Linked DNA regions of Homo sapiens: region 1 is linked to region 2. The links come from fine-mapping of genetic effects on gene expression. A gene starts in region 2. The other region holds a variant in brackets. All regions are shown on one strand. Distances are between the middles of the regions.

What was found. PIP is the estimated chance that this variant, and not a neighbour inherited with it, causes the effect.
Region 1: its variant is fine-mapped to the expression of PI4K2A in lung (TOPMed, PIP above 0.99).

The regions. Positions count from the first base shown.
Region 1 is chr10:97,653,869-97,669,819 of GRCh38, forward strand. PI4K2A (phosphatidylinositol 4-kinase type 2 alpha) reads left to right here. Exons shown (of 9, transcript NM_018425.4): 3 at 2,417-2,548; 4 at 2,953-3,106; 5 at 9,039-9,100; 6 at 11,017-11,116; 7 at 12,570-12,703; 8 at 13,193-13,252. Among named protein-coding and RNA genes, the nearest start is that of PI4K2A, 21 kb to the left of the region's middle. The variant A/G (reference allele first, on the strand shown) is at 9,023.
Region 2 is chr10:97,631,326-97,647,276 of GRCh38, forward strand. It overlaps PI4K2A (phosphatidylinositol 4-kinase type 2 alpha), which reads left to right and starts at 9,346. Exons shown (of 9, transcript NM_018425.4): 1 at 9,346-9,852. The coding sequence starts at 9,418. It overlaps MORN4 (MORN repeat containing 4), which reads right to left and starts at 2,175. Exons shown (of 5, transcript NM_178832.4): 1 at 2,022-2,175. RefSeq lists an enhancer at 2,439-2,528 and silencers at 8,088-8,271, 9,436-9,665.

The DNA.
Region 1 (15,951 bases), 23 kb after region 2:
ATTGTGCCACCACACTCTATCCTGGGCAACAGAGCGAGACTCCGTCTCAAAAAAAAAAAATACTTGTCTTCCATGAGACTGAGATGAGACAGAACTTTGGAAGCTTAACATATAGCTGCTGGAGAATAGTAAGAGGACTCCTCTCCCTGTCTCCCCAACTCTTGTGACAGGACTCTATCCAGTTGATCAGAGCATCTGTCATTATAGAAACAAGGTTCACATTGCATTGGAACTTCAAATGGTAAGGCTCTAATTCTCACTCACTGGCTGTCTCTGCTCTCTGCTCCTATGAGGTTTCAGGTTATGATAGTTTCATTAGTCATGGGGAAAAAGTGGTTTGTTAGGAAGAATGATAGAAAATAAATATGATGGGGGCAAAAGGGGATTTATGGCTTGAGAGAGCCAGGAGTTTCACTGTGGACACTGGCAAGGTAGCCTTAGGAAAGCTCTTTTTCCTTCATTCCTATGCCTGAGTTTTCTGATTTGTAAGGCAGGGAGTGCCTACTACAGTACCATGCACATCCATTTTAGGTAGTCTATTAATACTAGATGGTAGCATGGAGCGATAGATGAGAGGCAGTTATTTTGCCTCTCAGGTTCATGGGAAAAAAAATAGTTATTTGTAATAAATTTTACAAGGCTTAGGAAAATACCTTTCTTATAAGTTTGATTTTAGGTATTTATATGCTAAAACTCACTTGTTGCTGTCTCTGAAAGAAGCTTGTAACTCATTCTTCATTCACTTAATAAATATTTAATGAGCATATGCCAGCTACTGTGTTAGGTGCTGTGGATGCTAATATAAATAAGATGTTCTCCGCTTCCTCAAATCTCATTCATTTTAAAGGAGGAGTTAGATATACAAATGGATAATTACAAGACAATGTGATAAGTGTGACAATAGATGCATATGTGGATTACAATTACGTCACTGCAATTTGACTTAAGTATAATATTGATGGCTCATAAAAATTTTTTTTAGAATAAGTAATGCATGCATCTAGTATAAAAATCAGAAGGCACATAGGGTAAACAGAGAAAAGTAATTCAGACTCCCTGCTACCCCTATCTCCTGGCCATTCAGTTTCCTTCCTCAGAGGCAGCCAGGATTACAGTGTATAGCCTATACATAAAAATAGCAGTTAATTAAAATGAAAACCAATTTTAATGTTTGTGTTTTGAATACGAATAATTTCACAAAGTAAAAAAATTCAAAAGGGCCCGGGCACAGTGGCTCATGCCTGTAATCCCAGCACTTTGGGAGGCCGAGGTAGGAGGATCACCTGAGGTCAGGAGATCAAGACCAGCCTGGCCAACATGGTGAAACCCTCTCTCTACTAAAAATACAAAAATTAGCCAGGAGTGGTGGCACACACCTGTAATCCCAGCTACTTGGGAGGCTGAGGCATGAGAATTGCTTGAATGCGGGACTTGGAGGTTGCAGTGAGCCGAGACTGTGCCACTGCACTCCAGCCTGGGCAACAGAGTGAGACTCTGTCTCAAAAAAAAAAAAAAAAAAAAATTTTTTTTCAAAAGGAAATGAAGGGGTACAGAGTAAATTGCAACTTGTTTGTCTCTGGAAAGAAGATGGGCATTTGGCCTAATCTAACCCAGGAGATGACAGTGTTAATCCTTGTACTTCATACTAGCTGCTGTAACAACCCTTAAATCTAAGTGGTTTAATACAATTGGATTGTATTTCTTTTTTATCATATTTTTTTTGGGACAGAGTCTCCCTCTGTCACCCAGGATAGAATGTGCAGTGGTGCGATCTTGGCTCACTGCAACCTCTGCCTCCAAGGTTCAAGCCATCCTCCCACCTCAGCCTCCGAAGTATCTAGGATTACAGACGTGCACCACCATGCCTGGCTAATTTTTGTATTTTTAGTAGAGACGGGGTTTAACCATGTTGGCCAGGCTGGTCTCGAACTCCTGACCTCAAGTGATCTGCCCACCTCGGCCTCTCAGAGTGCTGGGTTTACAGGTGTGAGCCACCACGCCTGGCCAGGAGTGTATTTCTTGATTACATCTCAGACTCATGCCAGATAGGCAGCTCTCCTAGATACCACATCACTCATGTAGTTACAAGGTATCCGAGGTTCTTCCATGGTGTGGCTCTGCTATTTCCCAGCCCTTCTTTCCTAGCTGCACAGACTGGAGAATGTGAATTAAGGATTGTGGGAGATTTTAGTTGCCAGCAGTGGAAGTGTTGTACATACATAATTTTGTCATTATTTCATTGGCCCAAACTAGTTATCTTCCCTCTCCTAGTTGCTGGGAAGGCTGAGAAATGTATTCTTTCTGTGCCCTGGAAGAGGAATAGGATTTGTGAACATCAAGCTATTTATTCTCTGCCATAGTCTTCTGGTTCCTTAAACTTGACTCTAACCTTAGTATCTCTTCTCTTTCACTGTAGGTAGTATACCTGGCCAGTGAGACCTTCAACTATAGTGCCATTGACCGAGTGAAGTCCAGGGGCAAGCGGCTTGCACTAGAGAAAGTGCCAAAAGTTGGACAGCGGTTTAACCGCATCGGGCTACCACCAAAGGTATAGACGCACCTCTGGCTTATCAAGGGTCATGATTTATAGTGACATAGTCATCCAAGTGGTGAAGCAAGGTGCCTACAACTCAAATATGGGCACGTGAATAACCTGCCCTGAGGATCCTGTCTTCCTTATTTCTGTCAAGTGGCTAAGGTTTGAAAAGTTGAGACCTAACTTTTCACTTTACTCCTCTGGTTCATTTGGATAGGTTCTTTAATTTGGATGGATGATCACTGTTACATCTCTTTTCTCCTGTACTTGCAAGAAATGAGGAAGTAAAGATCTTGAAAAGTTTTCCTTCTCTGATACAAACTCCATAGGGCCTTAATGGGTATCTGGCATATACTCCAAAGGTCTTTGGATTTGGGCAGTAGGGAAAAACCTTTGTTCCTTCCTCTTGGTTCCAGGTTGGTTCATTCCAGCTCTTTGTTGAAGGCTACAAAGATGCAGACTATTGGCTGCGGCGTTTTGAAGCAGAACCTCTTCCTGAGAACACTAACCGGCAACTACTGCTCCAGTTTGAGCGGTTGGTGGTGCTGGATTACATCATCCGCAACACTGGTGAGCAGCTGCAGGTGGTCCCATGCCCTGTGCCAGACTGTGTTGAGGCATGGGGAGGCCTGGAGGCTTGCAGGGCTTGGGAGTCAGAGTACCTTGTCCAGACACATCATGTGTAGTTTTCAGAAGTGGTGAGGCCTGGAGTTAGTATTTGCATTTTATCTTACACTCTTTCCTGGTTCCAGACAGAAGACACTTAACTCTTCCAAAGCACTGTGAAGAGTACTCTTATCCTTGATCCCTAGTCATTCTTGTAGCCTCAAGACCTGTAACAGGACAGTTTTGTCTTCCTCTGACTTCTTGAGGTAGATGTTTAGATCATTGATATTTAAAAAAAATTTTTTTTCAGTGCAATTTAAATTCAACTAACCTGGTAAAATGTACATGTATTGAGGACAAAAGTCTTTAAATTCAGGCTGGATGTGGTGGCTCATGCGTGTACTCCCAGCACTTTGGGAGGCCAAGGTGGACAGATCATTTGAGGCCGGGAGTTCCAGACCAGCCTGGACAACATGGTGAAACCCTGTCTCTACTAAAAATACAAAAATTAGCCGGGTGTGGTGGCGGGCACCTGTAGTCCCAGCTATTCAGGAGGCTGAGGTGGGAGAATCGCTTGAACCTGGGAGGCGGAGGTTGCAGTGAGTCAGAATTGCACCACTGCACTCTAACCTGGGTGACAGAGCAAGACTCTGTTTCCAAAAAAAAAAAAAAGTCTCTAAAGTCACCTTATTGGAGCTATATTTTGTCCGATATTTTAATCATAGTAAAATGCATGTAACATAAAATTTATTATCTTAACCATTTTAAAGTAGTATGAAATACATTCATATTGTTGTGCAACTGTCACCACCATCCATCTCCAGAGCTCTTTTTGTTGTTGTTGAGACCGAGTCTTGCTCTGTCACCTAGGCTGGAGTGCAATGGTGCGATCTCAGCTCACTGCAACCCCTGCCTCCTGGGTTCAAGTGATTTTCTCACCTCAGCCTTCTGAGTAGCTGGGATTACAGACACCCGCCATCATGCATGGCTAATTTTTGTGTTTTTATAGAGATGGGGTTTCACCATGTTGGCCAGGCTGGTCTTGAACTGACCTCAGGTGATCCACCCATCTCAGTGTCCCAAAGTGCTGGGATTACAGGTGTGAGCCACCATGCCTGGCCTCCAGAACTCTTTTCATCTTGTAAAACTGAAGCTCTATACTCATTAAACAGTAACTCTTCATTCCCCCTCCCTACGTCCCTGGCAACAATCATTCTGTTTTCTGTTTCTATGATTTTGACTACTCTAAGTACCTCATGTAAGTGGAATAGTACAGTATTTGTCTTTTGGTGATTCGCTTATTCACTTAGCATAACGTTCTCAAGGTACATCTATGATGTAGTATATATCAGAATTTCCTTCCTTTTTAAGGATAAATACTGATCCATTTTATGTATATACCACATTTTGTCTATCCATTTATCTTTCAGTGAACACTTGGGTTGCTTCTGCATTTTAGCTATTACGAACAATGCTACTATGAACATGGGTGTACAAATATCTCTTCAAGACCCTGCTTTCAGTTTTTTTGAGTATATATCCAGAAGTGGAATTATTGGATCATATATGGTAATTCTATTTTTAATTTTTTGAGGAACCACCATACTGTTTTCCACAGCAGCTGTGCCATTTTACATTCCCACCAACAGCACACGAGGGTTCCTTCCAATTTCTCACCAGCACTTACTGTTTTCTGTTTTTTCCTTTTCATATTTAATCTGCATTCTGCTGAATGTTTTCTGTTGTTTTGATAGTAACCATCCTAATGGGTGTAAGATGTTATCTTATAGTTTTGATTTGCATTTCCTTAATGATTAGTGATGGTAAGCATCTTCTTATGTGCTGATTGGCCAATCATATATCTTCTTTGGAGCTGTCTATTTAAGTCCTTTGCCTATTTTTGAATTTTTTTTGGTCATTATTGTTGAGTTCTCTATACATTTGTTTAAAGTTCTCTGTATATCTGGCTATTAATCCCGTATCAGATATATAATTTGCAAATATTTTCTCTCAATCTCTTGCCTTTAGTTTTATTTTTTAAAGAGACAGAGTTATGCTCTATTGTCCAGGCTGAAGTGCAGTAGCACAATCATAGCTCACTACAGCCTCGGACTCCTGGGCTCAAGTGATCTTCCTACCTCTGCCACCCGAGTAGCTGGGACTACAGGTGTGAGGACCACGCCTGGCTAGTTTTTAAATTCTTTGTAGAGATGAGGTCTCACTGCGTTGCCCAGACTGGTCTCGAATTCCTGGGCTCAAGCAGTCCTCCTACCTCAGCCTCTCAAAGTGCTGGGATTACAGGTGTGAACAACTGCGCCTGGCTTGCAACTGATTTTTTTGTGGATTGACTTTGTATGCTGCTACTTTCCTGAATTATTAGTTCTAGTAGTTATTTTTTTGTGTGGAAATTTTAGGGTTATGCACCTACACAATCATATCTATGAACAGACATAATTTTCCCTCTTTTTTTTTTTCCAATTTGGGTGCTTTTTATTTCTTTTTTCTTGCTTCAGTGCTCTAAGACTTCCAGTACTATGTTGAATAGAAGTAAAAGCAGGCATCTTTTCACTGTTCTTGATTTTAGAGGAAAACCTTGCAATCTTTCACCATTATGATGTTAGGGTCCTTTTTGCCCACCTTGGCACCCTCAAGCTATTTGCAAGCTGCTCCTGGAACTTGTGCACATCTGGCTGCCATGTGGCTGAAGGGTGGGGGATGGGTAGCTGCTTGTGGGGCTAAGAGCCAAAATTGAATGAAATTAACCACAATTTACTGTCCAGGCTTTCCCCTGCAAGTTGCAGGCCCTCCATAGACTCCAGAGCTCCAAAATAATTACATCAGACAGATTTTTGCCACTACAATTGTTGTCCACGTGGGGAGACAGATTTCTGTTGTTTCCTACTCCACCATCTTCCCAGAATCCTCTCTCTTAGAGTATTGATTTTTACCTTTTCTCCTTTCCCTTCCTTTTCTTTTCTTTTTCTTTCTTTTCTTTTTTTTTTTTTTTTTGAGACGGAGTCTCGCTCTGTCACCCAGGCTGGAGTGCAGTGGCGCGATCTCGGCTCACTGCAACCTCCGCCTCCCGGGTTCACGCCATTCTCCTGCCTCAGCCTCCCGAGTAGCTGGGACTACAGGCGCCTGCTACCACGCCCGGCTAATTTTTTGTATTTTTAGTAGAGATGGGGTTTCACCGTGTTAGCCAGGATGGTCTCGATCTCCTGACCTCGTGATCTGCCCGCCTTGGCCTCCCAAAGTGCTGGGATTACAGGCGTGAGCCACCGCGCCCGGCCTTTTTTTTTTTTTGAGACGGAGTCTCACTCTGTCGCCCAGGCTGGATTGCAGTGGCATGATCTTGGCTCACTGCAACCTCCACTTCCCAGGTTCAAGTGATTCTCCTGCCTCAGCCTCCCGAGTAGCTGGGACTACAGGTGCATGCCACCACACCCGGCTAATTTTTGTATTTTTAGTAGAGACAGGGTTTCACCATATTGGTCAGGCTGGTCTTGAACTCCTGACCTCGTGATCTGCCTGCCTTGGCCTCCCAAAGTGCTGGGATTACAGGTGTGAGCCATCGAGCCCGGGCTCTTCTTTTCTAATATATGCACTTCAGACTTTAATTTCATCTTAAGCATAGTTTAGTTGTATCTTACAAGTGTTTTTTTTTTTTACCATAATCATTATAAAATATACTGAAATTTTTTTTATCCTCTCAGTTTATAGATGGAGACTGTATTTTCTAATTTCCATTGTTCATTTCTTCTCTGACCCATAGTTTACTTAAAATAGTTTTTTAGCTGGTTAGTAGGAAAATTTCAAAATACACAAAAGTAGAGAGACTGGTATAATAAACCCCATGTACTTGTTACCACCTTCAACAGTTATTATGTAAGGTCTCACTTCCTGCTACCCCCATCCCTGCTGGATTTTTTTTTTTTTCAACTAAGGCTTTGACTGGAACTGCTGGATTTTTTAAAATTTATTTTTATTTTATATTTTTTGGAGACGGAGTCTCACTCTGTTGCCCAGGCTGGAGTGCAGTGGCCCAATCTCGGTTCACTGCAAGCTCCGCCTCCCGGGTTCACACCATTCTCCTGCCTCAGCCTCCCGAGTAGCTGGGACTACAGGCGCCCGCCACCACACCCGGCTAATTTTTTGTATTTTTAGTAGAGACGGGGTTTCACCGTGTTAGCCAGGATGGTCTCGATCTCCTGACCTCGTGATCCGCCCACCTCGGCCTCCCAAAGTGCTGGGATTACAGGAGTGAGCCACCGCGCCCGGCCACTGCTGGATTATTTTAAAGCAAATCTGAGACATCATTTTATAGCATCCATAGATACCTCCATATGTTCTTGAAGAGATAAAGACTTTTTTTTTTTTTTCAGTATAATCAGTATTTAATGTCCCATCAGTGTTTGGATTACCCCAGTTGTTTCATAAAAAAAGATTTTTATAATTGGCTTGTTGAAATTATGATATAAAGGTCCACATATTACATTTGGTTAATATCTTTCCTTTCTGTTTTTTTTTTGGAGATGGGATCTCACTATGTTGCCCAGGCTGGTCTTAAACTCCTGGGCTCAAGCAGTCCTCCCACCTCAGCCTCCCAAAATGCTGAGATTACAGGCATGAGCCACTGTGACTGGCCAGGTTAATATGTTTCTTAAATGTCTTCAATTTAGGGAAAGTTTCACATCTTTTTTTTTCCCTTGCCTTTTATTTGTTGAAGAAACTGGATATTTGCCCTATAGAAGTTCCACATTGTGGATTTGGCATCCCCAATTCTCTGTGTTTCCTGTAAATTTACTGCTTGAGTTTAAAGGCTTGATCAAATTCAGGTTTGATTTTTTTTTTTTTTTTTTTGAGGCAGGGTCTCACTCTGTTGCCCATGCTAGAGTACAGTGGTATGATCATAGCTCATTGCAGCAGCCTCCAACACTTGGCTCAAGCTGTCCTGCCTCAGCCTCCCAAGTAGTTGGGACTATAGGCACGTACCACCACACCTGGCTAATCTTATTTACAATTTGTTTAGACATGGGGTCTCGCTATTTTGCCCAGGCTGGTCTTGAACTCCTGGCCTCAAGTGATTCTCTGCCTCCTCAGCCTCCCAAAATGCTGGGATTTCAGGTACAGCCTCTGCTGATATTCTTAATCTTGACTTTTATCTTTTTAAACATATTAAGGATTTTGTTGTGAACATTTTAAAGTCTGTATATTTTTATTGTTTGGAGCCCCTACAGATCTGTTTTAATTTTCAGTTGTTTCTCTTTTATTCCTGTCATCTTGTTTCTTTGTGTACCTGGTTGTTTTTCATTGTCAAATACTGCCTATCAGAAATCGTAGAGCTGTATAAAGGCCTAAGATGTCATTGTAAATCCTGTCTGGAGGAAGATTTCTTTTGGCAAGCATCTAGGGCAATAGCAATCCAGTATCACTTTAATTTCAGGTGTTGAGGGGAGCTTAGTGTATTTCCAAGGTGTAGTGCTTCAGGTCGTAACCCAAAGCATAGATGATATACGAGGGTCCCTTACCCCTGATCAGTCACTGGATTATAGTTTTTGTCTCTCTAGCTCCACAAGGCTCTTATAATTGTTCTACCTCTCAAGCTCTTAGCCAGCTCTTTCCAAATTGGCAGGTGCTCTAGGGGAAAAGAAGCCACAGTGCTGGGCTCCACGTCCTCCCATGGATTTCCTTTCTCTCCCATATCTTCACTCTTAAATCCTTTGTGGTCTTATTAAAATCTCCAGTACCTTAAAAAAGATCTAAAAATATTTTATCCAGCATTTGTAGTCATTCTCAGTAGAAGCGTTAGTCCGAGTGTCCAGAATACCTAGTCCACCATTACAAAAATGGAAAATCATCCCCCCTTTTTCTGCTAACTTT[A/G]TATTTCTGTTCACAGATCGAGGCAATGACAACTGGCTGATTAAATATGACTGTCCAATGGATAGTTCTAGCTCTCGGGTAAGAGACTGAGATAAATCTTAAAGAGAATGAAGAGTATTTGCATAATATAGAAACACATAAAATGGTCAGAGATGTAGTTCATACAAGTTCAGAAGAATCGGGGGGCGCATATGTTTAAAATTAATAGGTTAATATTTGGTAAAGTTTTTCTCAATATGTGTTTCAAGGACATCCTACTGACACATGTTAATAGGAATAGCATGAAGAAAGGGTCAAGTAAATTTGGAACATATTATGTACTCTGTTCTTTGAGCTTCTTATTGCACAGTAGCATAGTAAAGGTCTGAGAAGTACTACGTTAAACAAACCTATTTAAATTTGATTTCTACCCCTTTTAAACCATGAACCACTTTTCTCACAACAGACCGCAAGTCCACAGAACATAAGTTTAGAAAAAGCTGCTCCTGCAACTTTCTTTCCTTTCTCATTCCTTTCATCCTCCACCATACTTCTCTATCACTGTTCAGTCTACATGTTTTACAAAATTAGCAGAAGGCTGCCTAGGGGAGAGTGAGATTGGTTTTATTTCTTTTTTCTTTTCTTTCTTTTTTTTTTTTTTAAGAAACAGGGTTGGCCGGGCATGGTGACTCACGCCTGTAATCCCAGCACTTTGGGAGGCCGAGGTGGGAGGATCACCTGAGGTCAGGAGTTCCAGCCTGGCCGACATGGTGAAACCCCGTCTCTATTAAAATGCAAAAATTAGCCGGGCATGATGGCGGGAGCTTGTATTCCTAGCTACTCGGGAGGCTGAGACTCGAGAATGGCTTGAACCTGGGAGGCTGAGGTTGCAGTGAGCCAAGATCACACCATTGCATTCCAGCCCAGACGACAGAGCAAGACTCTGTCTCAAAAATTAAAAAAAAAAAAAAAAAAAAGAGACAGGGTCTTGCTCTGTTGCGCAGGCTGGAGTACAGTGGTGCTATCCTAGCTCACAGCAGCCTTGGACTCCTGGGCTCAAAGCAGTCCTCTCACCTCAGCCTCCTGAGTAGCTGGGACTACAGGCGCAAAAGTTGTTTAATGTTTTGTAGAGATGAGGTCTTGCTATGTTGCCCAGGGTGGGGTTTTCATTCCTTATAACTTTTTTACTTTCTCTAATAGTGGCTCTCAAATTTTGTGCCTGAATCTTCTGAAGAGTTATTTAAAATAGTACACAGATTCTTCAGGCCTTTCCCTTAGAAACTGATTCATCAGGTCTGGAGTAAAACTCAGGATTCTGCACATTTAATAAGGTATCTCAGGGGATTCAGATTCAGGCATCCTGGAACCACAGTTCTTGTTCCTGTGATGGCACCCATGAACCTGAAGCATGGAGCCACATAGTCAGTGATTGTCTCTGACATGGGCTGTCACAGGTGACATGCCCACTCTTTTTACATTCATCTCTTGTCCTTTTCCTTTTCATGCACCACTGAAGCAGGAGAACAGACTCCCTTGTGCAAGAGCAGCCAGCTGTTATCTTCCGAGGCTCTGTTTTCTCACTGGAAAATGTAGTTGTCACCAGTGAAGTAACATCTGAGTCAAGGTCCACACAAAAGGACCTTGGCCAACTGATATGGATTTTATTTCTTCTGTTCTGCTTTCAGGATTCTCATTTTCTTTCCCTAGGAGGAATGGCTTATAGTTATCTTTATTATTGTCATTTCCTTCTTACCAAGGACTGTAGCAACTCTTGGGGAAGTGTACCTTTTCTAAGATAAGAACAGGACTCTTGAACTTTGAACAAGAGCCAGGTCAGAGGCACCAAAATGTGCTAAGTTCAGATAACAACATGGAAGCCAGTTCAGAGAGTAGCTCAAGATAAGTTCAATAAGAATTCTTCTCTTGAGGGAGTTGGGATGAGTTGCTTTGCTACTAATTGGAAGGGCCTGAGGGAGATGGGTTTCCTCAGTCATTAGTCTTTCCTTGCTCTTCAGGACACAGACTGGGTGGTGGTGAAGGAGCCTGTTATCAAGGTGGCTGCCATAGACAATGGGCTGGCCTTCCCACTGAAGCATCCTGACTCCTGGAGGGCATGTAAGTCTCCAGACAATGGTGGTCTGGCTCTTCCCTTGCTCAGTATATTTTCTCACTGTGCAGTGGAGATGATAATGTCTCTATCATAGGATTATTCTAAAAATTAATGAAATAATGGAGTTCAGGCACTTTAACACAATGGCTGGCATATGGCAACTATTTCATAATGTAAGCTGTTTTTCTAATTTTTGTCTTCTATGATTCCCATTACAAGCATAAAGGTGATTAGAAATTAGAAGCATAAAGATGAGTTTTCTCATTGTCTCTTTGCATTCTTCTCGTTCTTTCTGAGGACTTTTTTTTTTTGGAAATGGAGTTTCGCTCTTGTTGCCCAGGCTAGAGTGCAATGGTGCGATCTGGGCCCACTGCAACCTCCACCTCCTGGGTTCAAGCGATTCTCCTGCCTCAACCTCCCAAGTAGCTGGGATTACAGGCATGCGCCACCACGCCCGGCTAATTTTGTATTTTTAGTAGAGACGGGGTTTCACCATGTTGGCCAGGCTGTTCTTGAACTCCTGACTTCAGGTGATCTGCCTGCCTCAGCCTCCCAAAATGCTGGGATTACAGGTGTGAGCCACTGCGCCTGGCTGAGGGCTATTTATTTTTTATTTATTTATTTTTTTTTTGAGACGGAGTCTTGCCCTGTCGCCCAGGCTGGAGTGCAGTGGCGCGATCTCGGCTCACTGCAACCTCCTCCTCCTGGGTTCACACCATTCTCCTGCCTCAGCCTCCCGAGTAGCTGGGACTACAGGCACCCGCCACCATGCCCAGCTAATTTTTGTATTTTTAGTAGAGACAGGGTTTCAGTGTGTTAGCCAAGATGATCTCAATCTCCTGACCTTGTGATCCACCCGCCTTGGCCTCCCAAAGTGCTGGGATTACAGGCATGAGCCACTGCGCCCGGCCCTTTTTTAATTTTTTAATTTGTTATTTTATTGTTTTAGTGTATATTTCCTGAAATATCTTTTTTTTTCCTGTTATCTGAGGACTGTCTTTCCATAATTTATTCTAATTGTGCCTCTAAATATAAGCTTCCTATCAGTGTTCTGTCTTCCTTGTTCCATCTCCTACCCTGTTGTAACTGAGAAGCTTCTGGAAAGGAGGAGAAATAAATGTAGGGAGTCAGTAGCCCCTTTTGCAGCATTAGTCTTCCTTTTCAGAAGGACCATCTCAGCGTCTCAGTGGCAAGTAGTTGCTTCTAGACCTTGCATCTTGGAAGGTCATGTAATGTCTGAGAATGAGCTCTGACATTAGGCAGCCCTGGGTTTGAACCCTGGTTCCTCTACTGACTAGCTGTGTAACCTTTACAGTTAAGAGCACTTGTAAGTTTTTGTTTCTGTTGTATGTCAGGGAAGAGGGGTTCTCCTTTAGAAAGTGCCTTGACTGGTGGAGGACACAGATGAGCAGGGACTTTTCCAACACCAGCTTTGCCTTTGACTTTTCCTCTTTTCAGATCCTTTTTACTGGGCCTGGTTGCCCCAGGCGAAAGTCCCATTTTCTCAGGAGATCAAAGATCTGATCCTTCCAAAGATATCGGACCCTAACTTCGTCAAGGACTTGGAAGAGGACCTATATGAACTCTTCAAGGTTAGCCCTGGGAACCTCAGCCCTATTATCATATGGGAGAAGGAATTTTTAATGGTTTTTTTAATTGGTCCTGACAAAAGCCAAGAGGAAATGGCTAACACCTTTCTGACTTGAGTTAGCCAACGAATAGCAAGATTTCCACATGTGGACAGCAGGACCTGGTTTGGATGGGTTTGAGAGAAATGGGCAGGGGTGAGAAATCACACTGATGTGTCTCTCCTGTCCATCATGTGGCTGCAATGTATCTGCAGGGCTTTCATTTTAATATGGAGCACTGGAGCCTAGAGTTTGAGATGCAGAGGAAGATATTGACTTGTTTTCTGTTTCCTCATCTGTAAAGCAGGGAGTTCTTGTGGGAGTAGTTGACTTCACAAAGCTGCAGAAGCCTTATGCAGGTTTTCCTTCTTAGAAAGTTTCTAACTGGGGGAGAAAATGGGTTCCTGTGAGGCATTCACACAGGTTCCATCTCCTTCTGGTCTTCTTTTGCAGAAAGATCCTGGTTTCGACAGGGGCCAGTTCCATAAGCAGATTGCTGTCATGCGGGGCCAGGTAAGCCTGGGACATCCTCCCAGTATCTTTGGCGTCTCTGGGAGTGTTGTGTGCTCAGGTTGAGCAAATGTTTGAAGTTTGTGTTTTATACCCCCCCCTTTTTTTTTGAGACCGAGTCTCACTCTGTCACCCAGGCTAAAGTGCAGTGGCATGATCTCTGCTCACTGCAACCTCCACCTCCCAGGTTCAAGCAATTCTTGTGCCTCAGCCTCCCAAGTAGCTAGGATTACAGGCGCATGTCACAACGCCCGGCTAATTTTTGCATTTTTAGTAGAGACAGGGTTTTACCATGTTGACCAGGCTGGTCTCGAACTCCTGACCTCAAGTGATGCACCTGCCTCTGCCTCCCAGAGTGCTGGGATTACAGGCGTGAGGCCCTGCGCCCGGCCGTGTTTTACAGCTTTTTTAAGTCCGTTGTGTACATTATTTTTGGCTGTACCTTAACACCTAGGAGAGGAAAAGTGGCCCTCCCAATTCTCCCACCTCTTCCCTGGTATCCAGTGCTTGTTGAAGCACTTAATGTGCACTCATCTCTATGCTAGTTGCTAGGTAATTCATTGGTAATTAAACTAATGCTCTCTGTCCTAGAGTTGCTCAAGGCAGGCTGTATGTTTTGGTGGTTAAGATCTGGGCCCTGGAGCCAGACTGCTTCACTACTTGGAAGCTCTGTGGCCTGGGGCAAAAGCCTCTGTTTTCTTGTTCATAAAACAGGATAGTAATAATACGTTGCACAGTTGGCTGGAGAATTTCATGAGATAATGCTTATCAAGCGTTTAGTAAAAAGAGTACTGGGCACATGAAGCACTCACATATTGATTATGGTTATAATTTTGTTGTTATAGGTGCAACTTACATTATTCCTTCTCCTTCCACTTCACCTTCAAAGGGAGCTAAGGAAACCAAGGGGATTGTTGATCTTCCAAAGCATAGTAAAGAAATGCTTGAAAAATGGTTTGAAAACTCTGTAGGGTACTGGTATTATGCCTATCACTTTGAAGTCTTCTTAAAGAGAGTTGGGATGACCTAGTGGTTAAGGGTGCAAACTGTGGTCACAGTGCCTGGGTTTTTGAAGCCTGGCTCTGCCATTTACTACCTGTGAGATTTTGGGCAAGTTACTTAATCTCTCCTTCCCTTAGTTTCCTCATGTTTAATGTGGGATCAATAATAGTAGCTGAGACCAGGCATGGTGGCTCACACTTGTAATCCCAGCACTTTGAGAGGCTTAGGTGGGCAGATCACTTGAGCTAAGGAGTTGGAGACCAGCCTGGGCAACATGGTGAAACCCCATCTCTACAAAAAACACAAAAATTAGCCATGTGTGGTGGCGCACGCCTGTAATCCCAGCTACTCAGGAGGCTGAGGTGGAAGGATTGCTTGGGCCTGGGAGGTCTAGGATGCAGTGAGCTGAGATGGCACCACTGCACTCCAGTCTAGGGGACAGAGTGAGAACCTGTCTCAAGATAATAATAATGGTACCCACCTTACAGAATTATTATGAGATAAATGATTTGAAACAGTTAGAGTAGTACCTGGTATACTAAAATACTCAATTTGTAGTATTAATAGCTGTTAGGATTATGATTTTTGTATACAGAAAATTCAGCTTCTCCCATCTTTAAAGGGCAAGAGGATCTTCTCAGCCTTAATTCTGCATTTACTTCTTCCTGCCATTTATCTAAAGACCTCTGATGACAGCACCTCCTGGGTTTGCTGAGCCCATTTTTCCCTGGAAGGGGGTTGGACAGAGGTTTTTTTTTTCTTTTGAGACAGAGTCTCACTCTGTCACCCAGGCTGGAGTGCAGTGGTGCGATCTTGGCTCACTGCAACCTTCACCTCCCAGGTTCAAGTGATTCTCCTGCCTCAGCCTCCCAAGTAGCTGGGATTACAGGTGCATGGCACCACACCTGGCTAATTTTTGTATTTTTAGTAGAGATGGGGTTTCACCATGTTGGCCAGGGTGGTCTCAAACTCCTGATCTCAGGTGATCTGCCTGCCTCGGCCTCCCAAAGTGCTGGGATTACAGGAGTGAGCCACTGAGCCCGGCCTGGACAGAGGTTTTAAGAACTACAATTATTGTAGCTGTCTGAATACCAGTAACATGGTATTCCTACATTTCCCAAGTAATGTAAGGGCCCAATTAGGCTGGCAGAATTTTTGGAAGCATTAAAAGCCATGTGATAGACTCAGATGTTATGGAACTCAGCATAAAGGAGTAAACTGGCTTCTCCAGTTGATATAGGCTGTGCCTCTGTCCGTATTGCAATGTCTTATCTAATTCCATCCCAGCTCAGTCCCTTGCCAACCCTTCTCCCATTACTCAGATAGTGCCATTATTCAGGATGGTAGGGAGGTTGGGGTAGTGCAGTTTTATTTATCTCCATCTTGTGCTCCTAATGTCTTCAGAGGAGCTTTTGGTATCTTGTAACCTAAAGTGCCTACTACCTTAGGGTGACCATCCAGCTCCTTCCAACATGTACATGGCCAGTATATCACTCATGTGCTTACTTGTCTACCATTCACACATCAAAGCAAAATGTGTGCACTACAAAATTTCTGCACTACAGAAATCTGACAAAGCACAGAGAAAAGAGGTCATAACCCTGTCTACATAGCTGAGCCATTATTGCAGGATGGGCTGTAGTACAAGGGCCCTGAGATGTAGGGAAAGAGTGAAGAGGCCCCACAGGGACACAGTCAGG
Region 2 (15,951 bases):
ATGGGTTGCAAAGGATCAGTCCAAACATTTACATAAAAGAAAATTACTATTCTGTCCCTGTAAACCAACACACTATTAGTCTGCACTATATACCATATTCCTGGTATCTTCATTTTCTTTTGTCCCAGACATTTCTTTTTAATTATTATTATTTTCTTATTTCCAAACAGAACTCTGAGGCAATAACGAGAATTTTTGTTTCCGTTCTTTTTATCGTTTTCTAATTTTAAGAAATCAACGTATTAAACAACATTTTTGTATTCACAGTAAACTGTGTCCAATTTAAGAGGATTAAAAAAAAAAAAACTGACATAAAGAGGAAAAAGGGCCAGGCATGATGGCTCACTCCTGTAATCCCAGCACGTTGGGAGGCTGAAGCAAGAGGATCGCTTGAGCCCAGGAGTTCAATACCAAGCTGGGAAACGTAGTGAGACCTCATCTCTACAAAACAATACAAAAATTTGCTGGGTGTGGTGGTGCATGCCTGTAGTCCCAGCTACTCAGGAGGCTGAGGTAGGAGGATTGCTTGAGCCCACAATTTGAGGCTGCCGGGGTGAGCAGTGACTGCACCACACCTGTACTCCAGCCTGGGCAACAGAGCCAGACCTTGTCTCAAAAAAAAGAAAAGAAAAGCAAAACAAAACAAAAGGTTGGGGCGGTGGGGGAGATCCAGTTAGAGAATACTGGGTGGAGGCAGCCACCCTAACTACCCACATGTCCCCCCAGAACCACCCTTCCCAGGGTACAATAGTCTTGTCAAATTATTTCAGTAATAAAGAAAGCAGTTCATAAGCTTTTAGAATCCTAAAGAGAAGAAAATGAAGGCTTTGATGAACAAAGATTAGCCTTGTTAGGAACCTAGAACAAAAAGTCAAATAATACTCCCCTTTTTTTTTTTTTTTTTTTTTTTTGAGACGGAGTCTTGCTCTGTCCCCCATGCTGGAGTGCAGTGGCAGGATCTTGGCTCACTGCAACCGCCGCCTCCCAGGTTCAAGCAATTCTCCTGCCTCAGCCTCCTGGGTAGTTGGGATTACAGGCACGTGCCACCATGCTTGGCTAATTTTTGTATTTTTAGTAGAGACGAGGTTTCACCATCTTGGCCAAGCTAGTTTTGAACTCCTGACTTCGTGATCCACCCGCCTCGGCCTCCCAAAGTGTTGGGATTACAGGCGTGAGCCACCGCGCCCGGCCTAAATATTTTTTTTTAAGTGTTTTAAAAGGAGCTCGAAATAACTGTTTTTCATTATAAGTCTAACCTCCTCTTTCCTCATGTGAAAAGTAAAGAAATGTATCGTTGCTATATGAAGGGTTCGTTTAGGGAAGACTGTGGGATGGTTAGATTGAAGAAAGTGGGAAGAAAATACTGGCGCCAAAAAGATTTTTTTTTTTTTTTATTTAAAGGCGATGATGACCTGGGGGTGATTGGGACTAGGGAGTAATACTGCCAGAATACTATCCTATTTCACGGGAAAGGGAATGCCAGGGCTGGACTCCGATATAGCAGTTATTCCTGCTGGTACCTAAGCAGTTCAGAGATGCTAGAATGCAGGGATACCACCCATCAACTAAATGAAGCATCCCATTCCCCAGGCTTCCATATGTGGGAGTTCTCTCCACCAGTGAGATAAAGGCGGGCTCAGGGAAAACAAAGCCCTAGACCACAACAAGGCAACACCTTCTCGCACCCCATTTTCACCTTCCAGGCGCGTTCCTTCCTGCTATCCGGGCCCGCTCTCCCGCCCGGCAGGGTCTAACGCTCACACAGGTCTGCCAATTCCCCTGATGCAACCCTCCACCCTCTGCTCGCTAACCCCAGTCCAGTCAGCTCTCCCGGGCCTCGACCCCCGCGGTGGAGACTAAAGGGTTCAGGTTTGGGTCCCCCACAGGCAACCGCCCTCAGGTCAGCGTATCCGAGGTGGAGCCGCGCCCCCGAGCCGGGTCATCTCGTGCTCCGTTCCTCAGTGCCCACCTGACCGATCACACTCTTTCCCGGCCCCCTCCCTCCTGCGCCTCCAGCCAACCTGGGGCCGGCCTTTCGGGATGACCGTCACGCCTGGACGCAGGGTTCCAGCGCCTCGGACTTTTCCTCTGATGGGCTCCCGGCTGCCACCTTGCTCTCCGCCACCTCCACCAGCGATTGCCCCACTTGACGCCGCCATCCTGGGCGACCGCACTGGGTACAATTCCCGCTGCCCATTGGCTGTTACCTAGGCAACCGGGAGCAACGCCACTCCGCATTGGCCCAGCCCGGCTCCACGCCATCTTTGTGCGGGGCCGAGTGTTTGCGAACCCGGGCTGACTATGTGAAAGAGGGGTGGTCCCACCTCTGCAACGCAGATAAAGACAGAGGATCCAGATCTGGCCTACCCAGAGGCCGTCTAGTTGAAATGGCAACCCCAAAGAAAACCAAACCTGCGCCCGAAGCAACAGTGACCATCAACGCGAGCGGCTCTGATCTTGCTCCAGTCCCCACTGCTGTCAAGGGCCCCGCCGCGGAGTTTAAGGCAGATCCTAAATCCAGCTTCAGAGAGGCAGCTTTGTAAATTGTAACGCGCTAGGCAGGATAGCCTCCAATAACTCTGTGCTAGACATTGTGATATCAAGACACTTTTGCATTCATTATAGGAATTTGTGCTGTCCTTGTCATTATCTAGATCCTTTTTGTTTAAAATATAGTACCTGGCCAGGCGCAGTGGCTCACATCTGTAATCCCAGCACTTCGGGAGGCCGCGGCTTGAGCTCAGGAGTGCGGGAGGCTTGAGCCCAAGAGTTCTAGATCAGCCTGGGCAACGCAGGGAGACTCCGTATCTACAGAAGAAAAAAATTACCCAGCCTAGTGGTGGGTGCCTGTAGTCACAGCTACTCAGGAGGCTGAGGTGGGAGGATCCCTTGAGCCCAGGAGGTTGAGGCTGCAATAAGCCATGATTCTGCCACTGTACCCCAGCCTGGGCGACCTAGCAAGACCCTGTCTCAAATAAATAAATTGCAAACCAAAAAGTATCTGAGACAGGTCTCAATCAATTTAGGAGTTTATTTTGCCAATGTTAAGGACATGCCCGTGACACAGCCTTAGAAGGTCCTAAGAATGTGTGTCCAAAATAGTCGGGACACCACTTGATTTTATACATTTTAGGGAGACGTAAGACATCAATCAATACATGTAAAATATACATTGGCTTGGTCCCGAAAGTGGGGGTGGGGGTGGCAAGTTCCAGGATGTAGGTGGATTCAAAGATGTCCTGATTGACAATTGGTTGAAAGAGTTTAAAGACCTGGAACCCACAGAAGGGAATGTCTGGGTTAAGTTAAGGAATTGTTACTAAGATATGCACGCACACACACACACACACACACACACACACACACACAAGGAATTGTGGAAATCAAGGTTTTTATTATGCAGAGAAGGCTACAGGTAGCAGGCTCCAGAGAGCATAGATTGTAAATGTTTCTTTATTTTTTTTTTTGTTTTGAGACAGGGTCTCCCTCTGTCACCCAGTCTGGAGTGCAGTAGCTGGATCACGGCTTACTGCAGCCTTGACCTCCCAGGCTCAAGTTATCCTCCCACCTCAGCCTCCTAAGTAGCTGAGACTACTGGTTCATTCCACTATGCCTGGCTTATTTTTGTATTTTTTGTAGAGATGGTGTTTTGTCATGTTGCCCAGGCTGGTATTGAACTCCTGGGCTCAAGTGATCCTCCCATCTCTGCCTCCCAAAGTGCTAGGATTACACGTGTGAGCCACCAAGGCTGGCCAGTGTTTATTATCAGATTTAGAAAGGTATCAGACTCTTAGTTAGTTCTCCCCTGGATCAGGAAAAAGACCTGGAAAGGGAAGGGGATTTTCTACAGAATGTAGATTTTCACCATAAAAGACACCTTTGCCTGCTATCATGACAGATGGGGCCTGCTATCTGTCAATGTTGGTATCATTGCTACAAAGAGTCTGCTGTGTCAACCTTAAGATCTCTGCTTTAATGTTAAATGCTGGTCCTGAATTCCAAAAGCAGGAGAAAATAATGAGGCATGTCTGACTCCCACTTCTCATCATGGCCTCAAATAGTTTTTCAGGTTAATTTAGGAATGCCCTTGGCCCAGAAGAGGAGGCCATTCATTTGATTGGGGGGCTTATAATTTTATTTCTGGTTCACTAGATAAATAAATAAATAAATAAAATATAGTGCCAAGATTGGAGCAAATCTTCCCAAATACCACTCACATCAATCTGTGTATCCATATGTTTATTTCTTAAACAATGTGAGTACAGCATGATGCTAGGTTCTGTCAGGCTTGAAAAGCCATGATTGTTACTCTTATGGCCTTTATAATTAGCTGAGTGTGGTGACAAGTGCCTGTGGTGCCAGCACTCGGGAGGTTAAGGCAAGAGAACTGCTTGAGCCTGGTTAACAGAGACCCTGTCTCAAAACATAAATAAATAAATAAATAAATAAATAAATAAATAAATAAATAAATAAAATGTAGTTTCTTGGCCAGGGGAATGACACACTACAAGCAGTATTTTATGAAAATTAATCTGACAGTGACACTCAGAGATGACCAGTGAGAGATTGGAAGCAAAGTAACAAACTCAGAAGTTATTGTAATAATGCAACTAACACATCCTGGAAGTTTCATGTAGCATCAGTGGAGATGAAAGAAAGGGGGTAAATATGAGACATATTTCATAGGGATATTTAATAAGAATCAACATAGTGTTAAGAGCATGGAAACAGTCTGCCTGGATTTGGATCCGGCTCTGCCATTTACCAGCTGAATGACCATGGGCACATTACCTTTACCTCCCTGGGTCTGGGTTTCCAACATCACAGGATACTATAAAGCTGGTTCCATGAGTTAATCCATGTAATGCATTTAAAACAATGTCTAGGCCGGGTGTGGTGGCTCATGCCTGTAATCCCAGCACTTTGGGAGGCCGAGGTGGGCGGATCATGAGGTCAACAGATCGAGACCATCCTGGCCAACATGGTGAAACCCCGTCTCTACTGAAAAATACAAAAATTAGCCGGATGTGGTGGCCCGCGCCTGTAGTCCCAGCTACTCAGGAGGCTGAGGCAGGAGAATCGCTTGAACCCGGGAGGCGGAGGTTGCGGTGAGCTGAGATTGCACAACTGCACTCCAGCCTGAGTGACAGAGCCGGCTAATTTTTGTATTTTTAGTAGAGACAGGGTTTCACCATCTTGACCAGGCTGGTCTCGAACTCCTGACCTCGTGATCCACCCGCTTCGGCCTCCCAAAGTGCTGGGATTACAGGCGTGAGCCACTGTGCCTGGCCAAAAAATTTTTTTAGATAAAATAAAAGACTCTGAGGGGTTTCTGTGGAGAAAAAACTCAGAATTCCAGGGAGAACTCTAAATCTGGGACCTTTCCTTTACCATAATTTGAAGCTTATGGGCTAAATGAGATGAATGATACCAAAAGATTATCTATGTGGCTACAGACCCTGGGCCACAAGAGCCAGGCATCAGTTGATTATTGAGGTCTAGATAGGAAAAGGAAGTGCATGTATTATAACTGAAAGGGGCAATTTAACCTTCTGTACGACTTTTGTTTAGAATGGTTTGTCTGGCCAAAAATGTTTAAGACATTCCCATACATATAATTAAACAATAGTGCTTTCAATTTGGTATTTCTAGTTAGCAGTGGCAATAATTTGATTCAAGAAAGAATGATTATGAAATATTGGTGACTATGTGACTGGCCATGATTCGTGAAAGCCCATACCTCTAGTCTGCTGGTGACTTTAAGCATAAAAACAAAAACAACATCAACAGTAACATCAGCAGTGATTTTTTTTCAAAAAGCTACCATATGTTGAGTGCTCTTTATGTACAAAACACTATGCTAAGTGCTTTATTTTTATTTTTCCTATTAGAGAGTCATGCTTCATATGCTAAGTGCTTTACATAACATTATATTGATTCTTGATTCAGTAATCATGGGGATGATTATTCCCATTTTATAGATTAAGGAACTGAGGCTTAGAGAGGTTATATAACTTGTCTAAAACAACTGATCATCATGGAGACTGGATTCAAACTCAAATGTCTCTGATTTCCAAGCCCATGCTTCCAACCATTACATTTTACACTTTTTTTTTGAAACGGAGTCTGGCCCTGTTGCCTAGGCTGGAGTGCAATGGCACGATCTCAGCTCACTGCAACCTCCACCTCCCAGGTTCAAGCGACTCGCCTGCCCCAGCCTCCGTAGTACCTGGGATTACAGGCGCCTGCCACCATGCCTGGCTAATTTTTTGTAGTAGAGACGAGGTTTCACCATGTTGGACAGGCTGGTCTCAAACTCCTGACCTTGTGATCCACCCGCCTTGGTCTCCCCTAGGATTACAGGTGTGAGCCACCAAGCCTGGATGTACATTCTACACTTTTGAAGGTAGTGTTTGCATACATTTTTTTTTGAGACGGATTCTTGTTCTGTCGCCTAGGCTGGAGTGCAGGGGTACGATCTCAGCTCACTGCAACCTCCACCTCCCAGGTTCAAGCGATTCTCACACCTCAGCCTCCCAAATAGCTGGGATCATAGGCGTGTGCCACCAAGCCCAGCTAATTTTTTTTTTTTTTTTGTATTTTTAGTAGAGACAGGGTTTCGCCATGTTGGCCAGGCTGGTCTTGAACTCCTGACCTCAGGTGATCCACCCGCCTCAGCCTCCCAGAGTGCTAGGATTATAGGCGTGAGCCATCGTACCTGGCTTGTTTGTATAAATTTTAACTGAAACAGTATTCCATGAATTTATTATTATTATTATTTTTTCAGATGGAGTTTCGCTCTTGTTGTTCCAGGCTGGAGTGCAGTGGCACAATCTCTGCTCACTGCAACCTCCTTCTCCCAGGTTCAAGCAATTCTCCTGCCTCAGCCTCCCAAGTAGCTGGGATTACAGGCATGTGCCACCAAGCCCGGCTAATTTTTGTATTTTTAGTAGAGACGGGGTTTCACCATGTTGCCCAGGCTGGTCTCGTTCTGTTCTACTTTCCAGGCCCTTGGTAACCCAGTTTAACTCTGCTTCCCCTCGAATCAAGAAGGTTGCTCTCTGTTCCCTATATGCCCTAGCCTTCCTCTTTTACTCAGGTAACTCCTGCTTGGTGTAACATTTTTTTCCTGTCTCCTTTTTTTCCAGCAATCTAATTACTCTTTCTTTAAGACTCAGCTCATAGCACATGACCCACTTAAAGCCTTTGCTTGATCCTTGAGCATTCTGGTTGAAAAAAAAAATTAGAAAAAAAATAAAGCCTTTGCTGAGCCTGCAGCCTGCCTCAGTTAATTGGTGAACTGTTACGGAGTTTTGAGCTCATTTTGCTTTTTTTTCTCCTACTGCCTCAGAAAGCCACATGCCTTCAGCTTGAGGGCAGGGACTCTATCTTCCTTCCCTTTCTCATGAATAATAATGTACTGAGCACCTACTGTGTCTAGACACTGAGATTTAACAGTGTGAGTAAAAGCAATGGACTCTTACCTCGTGGTAAGAACTTCTTAGGCTCATGGGACCATATTTTTCTTCAATTAACAAATAAGCATTGAGCAGCTGGGCCAGGCACAGTGTAAGATATTAATTGGCTATGTATTATTCTTTGTATCACAAGTTTGTATCTTCACAGGAACTTGAAGATAATGGGTGAGGCAGCGAGTCAGGAATAAAATGTCTTAACAATTGCCCCTGGGTTTTCCTAGGAACTCCTTAAAAAAATTAATTTTTAAAAAATAGATGGAGTCTTGCTATGTTGCCCAGGCTGGCCTTGAATTCCTATAAGGTTGAGAAGGAAAGATAGCTTAGAGCAGTCTGAGCTCTGTGTGATGTATGCACAGTCTATTGGCTCAAAGACATGAGTATGGGACTTCAGTCATGCCTTCCACACCCACACTCTGGGGCAATGGTTTCTTTCTTTCTTTCTTTCCTTTCTTTCCTTCCCTTTCTTTTCTTTATTTCTTCCTGCCCCTCTCCCTCTCCCTTTCTTTCTTTCTCTTTCTCTCTTTTTCTTTCTTTCTTGACAGAGTTTCTCACTGCAACCTCTGCCTCCTGGGTTCAAGCGATTCTCCTGCCTCAGCTTCCCGAGTAGCTGAGATTATAGGCATGTGCCACCATGCCCGGCTAATTTTGTATTTTTAGTAGAGACAGGGTTTCTTCATGTTGGTCAGGCTGGTCTTGAACTCCCGACCTCAGGTGATCCGCCTGCCTCAGCCTCCCAAAGTGCTGGGATTACAGGCGTGAGCCACTGTGCCTGGCGGGTTTTTTTCTTTTAAAAATTTTTTATTTTTTGGCTGCACTGTGGGTGGTTCACACCTGTAATCCCCCAGCACTCTGGGAGACTGAGGGAGGAGGATCGCCTGAGGCCAGGAGTTCAAGACCAGCCCAGGCAACATAGAGATAACCTAACTCTAAAAAAATAATAATAATATTTTAAAAAGAAATCTTCAGGGCTTCCTAGGAAAACCTGGAGGCAATTGTTAAGACATTTTATCCTGACTGGCTACTTCACCCATTACCTTCAAGTTCCTGCGAACTTGAAGTGTAACCTGACATTGTTACATCTACATTGGAAGTATGTTAGGTCAACTGAGATACGAATTTGGGATACAAAGTACAATGTATAGCCAATCTATAACTTGTTATTTTAATGTAAATTCTTGGTAAACAAGTTAGGAACTGCCTCTTTTCCTTTAAAAACCTACTTCCAGGCCAAGCGCAGTGGCTCACACCTGTAATCCCAGCACTTTGGGAGGTCGAGGTGGGCAGATCACTTGACCTCTGTCGTTTTTTTTTTGGAGACTGATCACTCTGTCTCAAAAAAAAAAAAAAAACAAACCCAAAAAACAAACCCCCCGCCCCAAAAAAAACGTTTCATCGAGGTAGAGCAGCAGCTTTGTTTCTTTGCTTCACTGCTGTCTCCCTAGCACTTAGAACATAGTACGTGCTCAATAAATGAATGAGTGCCTGACTGAATGAATGAGGATACATAGATGAGATTCCTCCAATCTCACAGCCGGTTCAGAGTAGGCACTCAATGAGTGACTGACAGGATAGTTGCTGTTTTGAAAGCGCCCAAGTCCAGTAAGCCAATTGGAAGCTAAGCGTGGCGCTGGTATAGTAGGGGCAGGGGGCGTGCCTGACCCAAGGTTGGGTCCTGGAGCATGCGCAGTCTTCACAGAAGGTGACGGGGAGAAAAATGCGGAGGCAGCGATTGCGTAGGAGCAGGTTCTGATTGGCTACTGTTCGCGCGCGAGGGGCCGTGCCTATTCGTAGCCAAGTAAACAGGGCAGGTTAGAGGCGGGGCCAAGGAGGCGTCGCGACCTGGTTGGCCGGCCGGGGCCTGGGGGATGTCACGGATTGGTCGCGGCCGCGAGCGCAGTGGTGTGGAGCGCGCCGGGTCCCGGAGCCGGCTGTCTGAGGGATGGACGAGACGAGCCCACTAGTGTCCCCCGAGCGGGCCCAACCCCCGGACTACACCTTCCCGTCGGGCTCGGGCGCTCACTTTCCGCAGGTGCCCGGGGGCGCGGTCCGAGTGGCGGCGGCGGCCGGCTCGGGCCCCTCTCCGCCGGGCTCGCCGGGCCACGACCGCGAGCGGCAGCCACTGTTGGATCGGGCCCGGGGCGCGGCGGCCCAGGGCCAGACCCAAACCGTGGCGGCGCAGGCCCAGGCTCTGGCCGCTCAGGCCGCGGCGGCAGCCCACGCCGCTCAGGCCCACCGCGAGCGGAACGAGTTCCCGGAGGATCCTGAGTTCGAGGCGGTGGTGCGGCAGGCCGAGCTGGCCATCGAGCGCTGCATCTTTCCCGAGCGCATCTACCAGGGCTCCAGCGGAAGCTACTTCGTCAAGGACCCTCAGGGGGTGAGTGCGGGGGTGGGGACCGCCGCCGCGGGCTGAGGGCCGGCGGCGCTCCTGGGGAGTTGGGGGCTTCGCACAGCCAGAGGGAAAAGGGAGAAACTTCACAGTACCAGCCCCTGGCAGGATTTAGGGATGCCACTGAGGACTGGAGCTGGGGACGCTCTGCGGAATGGAGAAATAAATCAGAACCTACTTGGTGGGGGAGGAGTGAGCGGAAAATGAAAAGAGGAAATTGACCAGATACGGGCCGGGGGCTCAGCGGTGTGGTGGGGCAATCCGCCGCTGGACAGAGACTGCTTTCTAGTAGGGTACTTAGCTTCACACTACTGGGACAGCTATTCGGCCGCCGACTTGCAGATTTGGGGCTTTAGGCCTGTTCTCTCTTTTTGGACCGACCGAACCAGTGTGTCGCTGTTCACGGAGGAGGATGGGTGACCTATCAGGGGATCTGAGAATTCAGTTCCAGCCTTCTATGTTGTGGGGGATGTCCCCTGCCACCGTCCCAGCTCTTATTAACAGACGTTGAAGAAAGAATGGGCGGACTCACCAGTTTCATCTGCCCTGGGTATTGCTCACTTCTGGGAAAGGGTTCAAATACTTTTTGACGACTCCAAAGTTTAGATAGAACTTGGAGTTTTAGAAACATGGGGCCATCAGCTACTTTTTCTTTCATTTCTCTCCCAGGGCTATCAACAGCCTGCTTTTCAACTAAGGCAGAGCGTTTGCCGACCTTTATTTTGTCCCCTGCCTGTATATAAAGGGGGATGGTTATAGGATGGGGCATGGAGTGACCAGGGTATCTGAGAAGTGACCTTTATCCTTTTGAGAACTGCAGAATTTAAGAAATACCAAGTCTTCCCTGTTTTCAGGGAAGTTTCAGGGAAATTTTCAGGTGTGCTGCAATGGGTCATTGGAAAGATGTATTGTTATTTAAATTATGGGTGTCAAAGTTTCCTCAGATTTTCCCTGACATCTCTCCTGTGTGAACTCTTTAGATGGCCAGGGTGCTGTTTTAATAGGAGTCCTGAGTGGCCAGGACGGGCTGTTACTTGTAGCTCTTGGTTCGGCTCATTGAATGATCTAGTTATTCACTCAGAGTTTGAGTCGTCCCTGAATTAATCAAGAATTAGAGAACAATTCTGCCATGAACTCAGTTTCTCAGTTTACATAAACTGAGTTGGGGAAAGCTTTGCGAGTAATAAGTCTTTCGAAGTTTCTTTTTCTTTTTTTTTTTCTTTTTTTTTTGAGACAGAGTCTTGCTCTGTCGCCAGGCTGGAGTGCAGTGGCGCGATCTCAGCTCACTGCAGCCTCCGCCTCCCAGGTTCAAGCAATTATCCTGCCTCAGCCTCCTGAGTGGCTGGGACTACAGGCGTGCACCACCACACCCAGCTAATTTTTGTATTTTTAGTAGAGACCATGTTGGCCAGGATGGTCTCGATCTCTTGACCTTGTGATCTGCCCACCTCGGCCTCCCAAAGCGCTGGGATTACAGGCGTGCCACCGCGCCCGGCCTCCAAGTTTCTTAAATAAAAGAGCTTGCAAGCTCAAGTGGGAACCATCATTTCTAGAAGCAAAGAAATGTGAGTGCCCTGAGGTTTAAATGTCAGCCAGAGGCTTGCTTGCTTTCTCTTTCTTCCTTCCTTCCTTCCTTCCTTCCTTCCTTCCTTCCTTCCTTCCTTTCTTTCTTTCTTTTTCTTTCTTTCTTTCTTTCTTCCTTCCTTCCTTCCTTCCTTCCTTCCTTCCTTCCTTCCTTTCTTTCCTTTCTTTCTTTCTCTTTCTTTCTTTTTCTTTCTTTCTTTCATTCATTCTCTCTTTCTCGTCTTTCTTTCTTTCAGAGAAGGTCTCACTCTGACACCCAGGCTGGAGTGCAGTGGTGCAGTCTCACTGCTCACTGCAGCCTTGACATCCAGGGCTCAAGGTCCTCCCACTCAGCTTCCGAGTAGCTGGGACTACAGGCACGCACCACCACACCCGGCTAAAAATTATTTTTCATGGAGACAAGAGTCTCGCCATGTTGCCCTGGTTGGTCTCAGACTCCTGGCTTCAAGCAGTCATCCTCTTGCCTCAGCCTCCCAAAGTGCTGGGATTACAGGTGTGACCCACCATGCCTGTCCTTTTTTTGTGGGCAGAGGGTATTTTTAGTTTGTTGGCAAATGTAAGAAGGGGCTAAGATTATCTTTGATAGGTACAGGAGAAGGAGGAATATTTTTGTTTTTCTTTCATGACACTGTTAGAGCTGCATTGGAAGTGGGTTAGGTCAGCTGAGAAGTGAGCTGGTGCTTTGACAGATGGAAGTAATACGATCTCTTAATTCTACCTGGCAGGTAAAGTACTACCATCTCAGTACATAGGCCACAGAGAAGGACAGACCATAGGTATGTTACTTGGTGATTTAGGGATTCCAGTCTCTAAAATTTCCTGGCCACTATCCTTTCTCATAGGGGAAGTCCAAACACAGATGCCCTGACAAAACTTTTTGACGTACTCATACTGCTTCCAGTGAAGAAAATGTGATTTAGAACAAAGGGCACTTTCTAAATGCTTGCGGTGGGTTAGACTGGCCCACAGACTTACTGTAGTTGGAATTGTCATCTTTGGCTCTCCTCCAAATGTATTTACTTTATTAAACAAATACTTACATAGCATTTACTATATTCCTTTAAGTGCTTTACAAATAATAACTCACTTAATCTTTATAACCACCCTTGGAGGTAGGTACTGTTATTATCCCCGCAGGTGACAACACAAGCCCATGGTATAACAAATTTTTCCAAGGTCTCACACCTAGTAAGTGGTAGAGGCAGGATTGGGCCAAGGCGGGTTGGCTGTGGAGTTCATGTTCTCACCACTATCCTTTGCTCCCTCAGAGTCAGTCATCAGAATTTCCATATTCTGGACAGGTGCGGTGGCTCACGCCTGTACTCTCAGCACTTTGGGAGGCCGAGGCAGGCGCATCACTGGAGGTCAGGAGTTCGAGACCAGCCTGGTCAACATGGTGAAACCCCATCTCTACTAAAAATACAAAAATTAGCCGAGCACTGTGGCAGGCACTTGTAATCCCAGCTACTCGGGAGGCTGAAGCAGGAGAATTGCTTGAGCCTGGGAGGTGGAGGTTGCAGTGAGCCGAGATCGTACCACTGCACTCCAGCCTGGGCGACAGAGTGAGACTCCGTCTCAAAAACAAAACAAAAGAAAAGAATTTCTAAATTCTCTTCTCAGCTACTATATTGGTTAGTATTGAATTTGACTATATGTGACAGATATTTTAAAATAATGATGACTTGAAAAAAGGTTCATTTACACCTCATGTAAAAGAAGTCTATAGGCTAGCTGCTCAGGCATGCTCAGGGCTGGCATGACATTTCACTTTATTGGAGACATAGGGTTCTTCCTGCCAGCTGATCAGCCATCTTTAGGATATGGCTTCTACTACATGGTCCAAGATGGCCGCTCAAGCTGCAAACATCTTGTCTGCTTTTCAGCCATTTGGAAGAAGGAAAGGGAGAGGGTGAATATGCCCCCATCCTTTAAGGCACTTCGTAGAAGTTGTAGGAGACTCTTCTACTTACATTCCATTGTCTAAAACTTAGCTGTAGTAGTGGCTGGGAACTATAGTCTTTTTTCTTTTTTCGCCCAGGTAAAAATCATGGGTCTTGTGTCTAGGGAACAAGGGGGAACAGAGATTGGGAGAACCAGCACTTTCTGCGACAGCCACTTTTGGATCTTAGACAGTCTGAAAGATTCTTGAAGATAACAGCCCTGGTCCCATTTCTCAATTTTGGATGGTTTCTGTCTCAGTGGGGTCCAAGAACAGATGGAAAATGCTAGAAGTCATGGGGAGAGTATACACATACCCCCCTCACTTACCTCCTTGTGCTTCAGGTCTCATGCTCACTCAACTGCAAAAGGGTTTTTTGAGCTTTTTCTCTTTTGCGTGGAGTAATACTAGATTTTCACATTGCCAAGAATCATAGGACAGCATGTGACTCACTAGGTTAAGAGGATTAAATGACATATCACACATGAAAGCCCTGACGTAGTTCCTGGCACTTAGTTGGGGCAGCTCAATCAGATTTTTAAAAACATTCCTACTAACTGCTTAATTAGGGTTCTTGGGGTACATGGTATCGAATAAGGCTATAAGAGTTGGTAGATGGGGCGCAGTGGTTCACGCCTGTAATCCCAGCACTTTGGGAGGCTGAAGCGGGCGGATCACAAGGTCAGGAGATAGAGACCATCCTGGTTAACATGGTGAAACCCCATCTCTACTAGAAATACAAAAAATTAGCCGGGCGTGGTGGCGGGCACCTGTAGTCCCAGCTACTCGGGAGGCTGAGGTAGGAGAATGGCGTGAACCCGGGAGGCGGAGCTTGCAGTGAGCCAAGATCGTGCCACTGCTCTCCAGCCTGGGCGAGACAGCAAGACTCTATCTCAAAAAAAAAAAAAAAAAAAAGTTGGTAGATGATGCTTAAAATCTCGAGACCTACATGTATGACAAACTTGACTGCCTCTTAACGTTTTAGTAAAATAATTTTATTATATTTTATTATATATATATTTTTGAGACAGTTTCTCACCCTGTCGCCCAGGCTGGAGTGCAGTGGCACAACCTTGGCTCATTGCAGCCTTGGCCTCCCAGTGTTGGGATTACAGGTGTGAGCCACTGTGCCTGGATGGTTTTATATATTTCAACAAGCCCTTCCCTTCCTTTTGTAAGAATGAACTTGTAAATAAGGCTTCTCTACCTAAATAGCTAAATCAAGGACTACTATTTTCCTCCAACCTATACCATAGAATACAGCAGTTCTTAGAGTGTGGCCCAGGGATCTTGACCTCTGGGAGTTCCTTTTTGGGGTCCACAGGTCAAAATTATTTTCATCATAATTCTAAGACTTTATTTGCCTTTTTCATTCTCATTTACTTAGGAGTGGAGAGTGGAGATTTCCAGAGACTACATGATGTGTGATATTGAAACAGATTGAATACTAAGATATGAGATATAGCCTTTACCCACATTAACAAATGCTTTTTGGAGTCCTTAATAATTTTTTTTTTTTTTTTTGAGATGGAGCCTCACTCTGTCGCTCAGGCTAGATCAGGCATGATCTCGACTCACTGCAACCTCTGCCTCCTGGGTTCAAGCAATTCTCCTGCTTCAGCCTCCCAAGTAGCTGGGATTACAGGTGCGCCCACCACCATGCCCGGCTAATTTTCGTATTTTTAGTAGAGACAGGATTTCAGCATGTTGGCCAGGGTGGTCTCAAACTCCTGATCTCAGGTGATCCACCCGCTTTGGCCTCCCAAAGTACTGGGATTACAGGCATGAGCCACCACACCCAGCCTAATTTTTAAGAGTTTAAACTTTTTGAGACCAAAACGTTTGAGAACTATCCACTTAATGTTTATGAAACTTTAAAAGAAGACTTTTATAAAAGGTAATTTCTGTATATTTCACTGTGCGATGTGAATGATATGCTTGAACTGTCTTACATTTTAGGTTCTTGGAGAAAGGACCTCTTTTAGCATAGCATGACACCCTCCTCCTTGTCATTGCTGATTAGATATAGGAACCCCGCTGGGTTCCAGGTTCCAGTAATTTTTTGTTGTTGTTTGTTTTGAGAGGGGGGTCTAGCTCTGTTGCCCAGGCTGGAGTGCAGTGGTGTGATCTTGGCTCACTGCAACTTCCACCTCCTGGGTTCAAGCGATTCTCCCGCCTCAGCCTCCTGAGTAGCTGGTACTACAGGTGCATGCCACCATGCCCGGCTAATTTTTTCTATTTTTTTTTTTTGTAGAGATGGGGTTTCACCATGTTGGCCAGGCTGGTCTTGAACTCCTGACCTCAAATGATCCACCTGCCTTGGCCTCCCAAGTGCTGGGATTATAAGTGTGAGCCACTGCGCTGGGCTCAGGTTCCAGTAATTGGTTGTGGGTTCTGACACCAGCTGGTGCATGGCCTCTTGCTTTCTTGTGTGATTTGGTTTTTATTCCCAACTTCATGGACTGCTACTGCTTAAGCTATCTGTACCTCACCCCTCCTTTGTTAAAAGGGGAGATTAGTAAATGGGTGTTAAGAAAAGTTGTTTTTATAATATTGGCATCAAA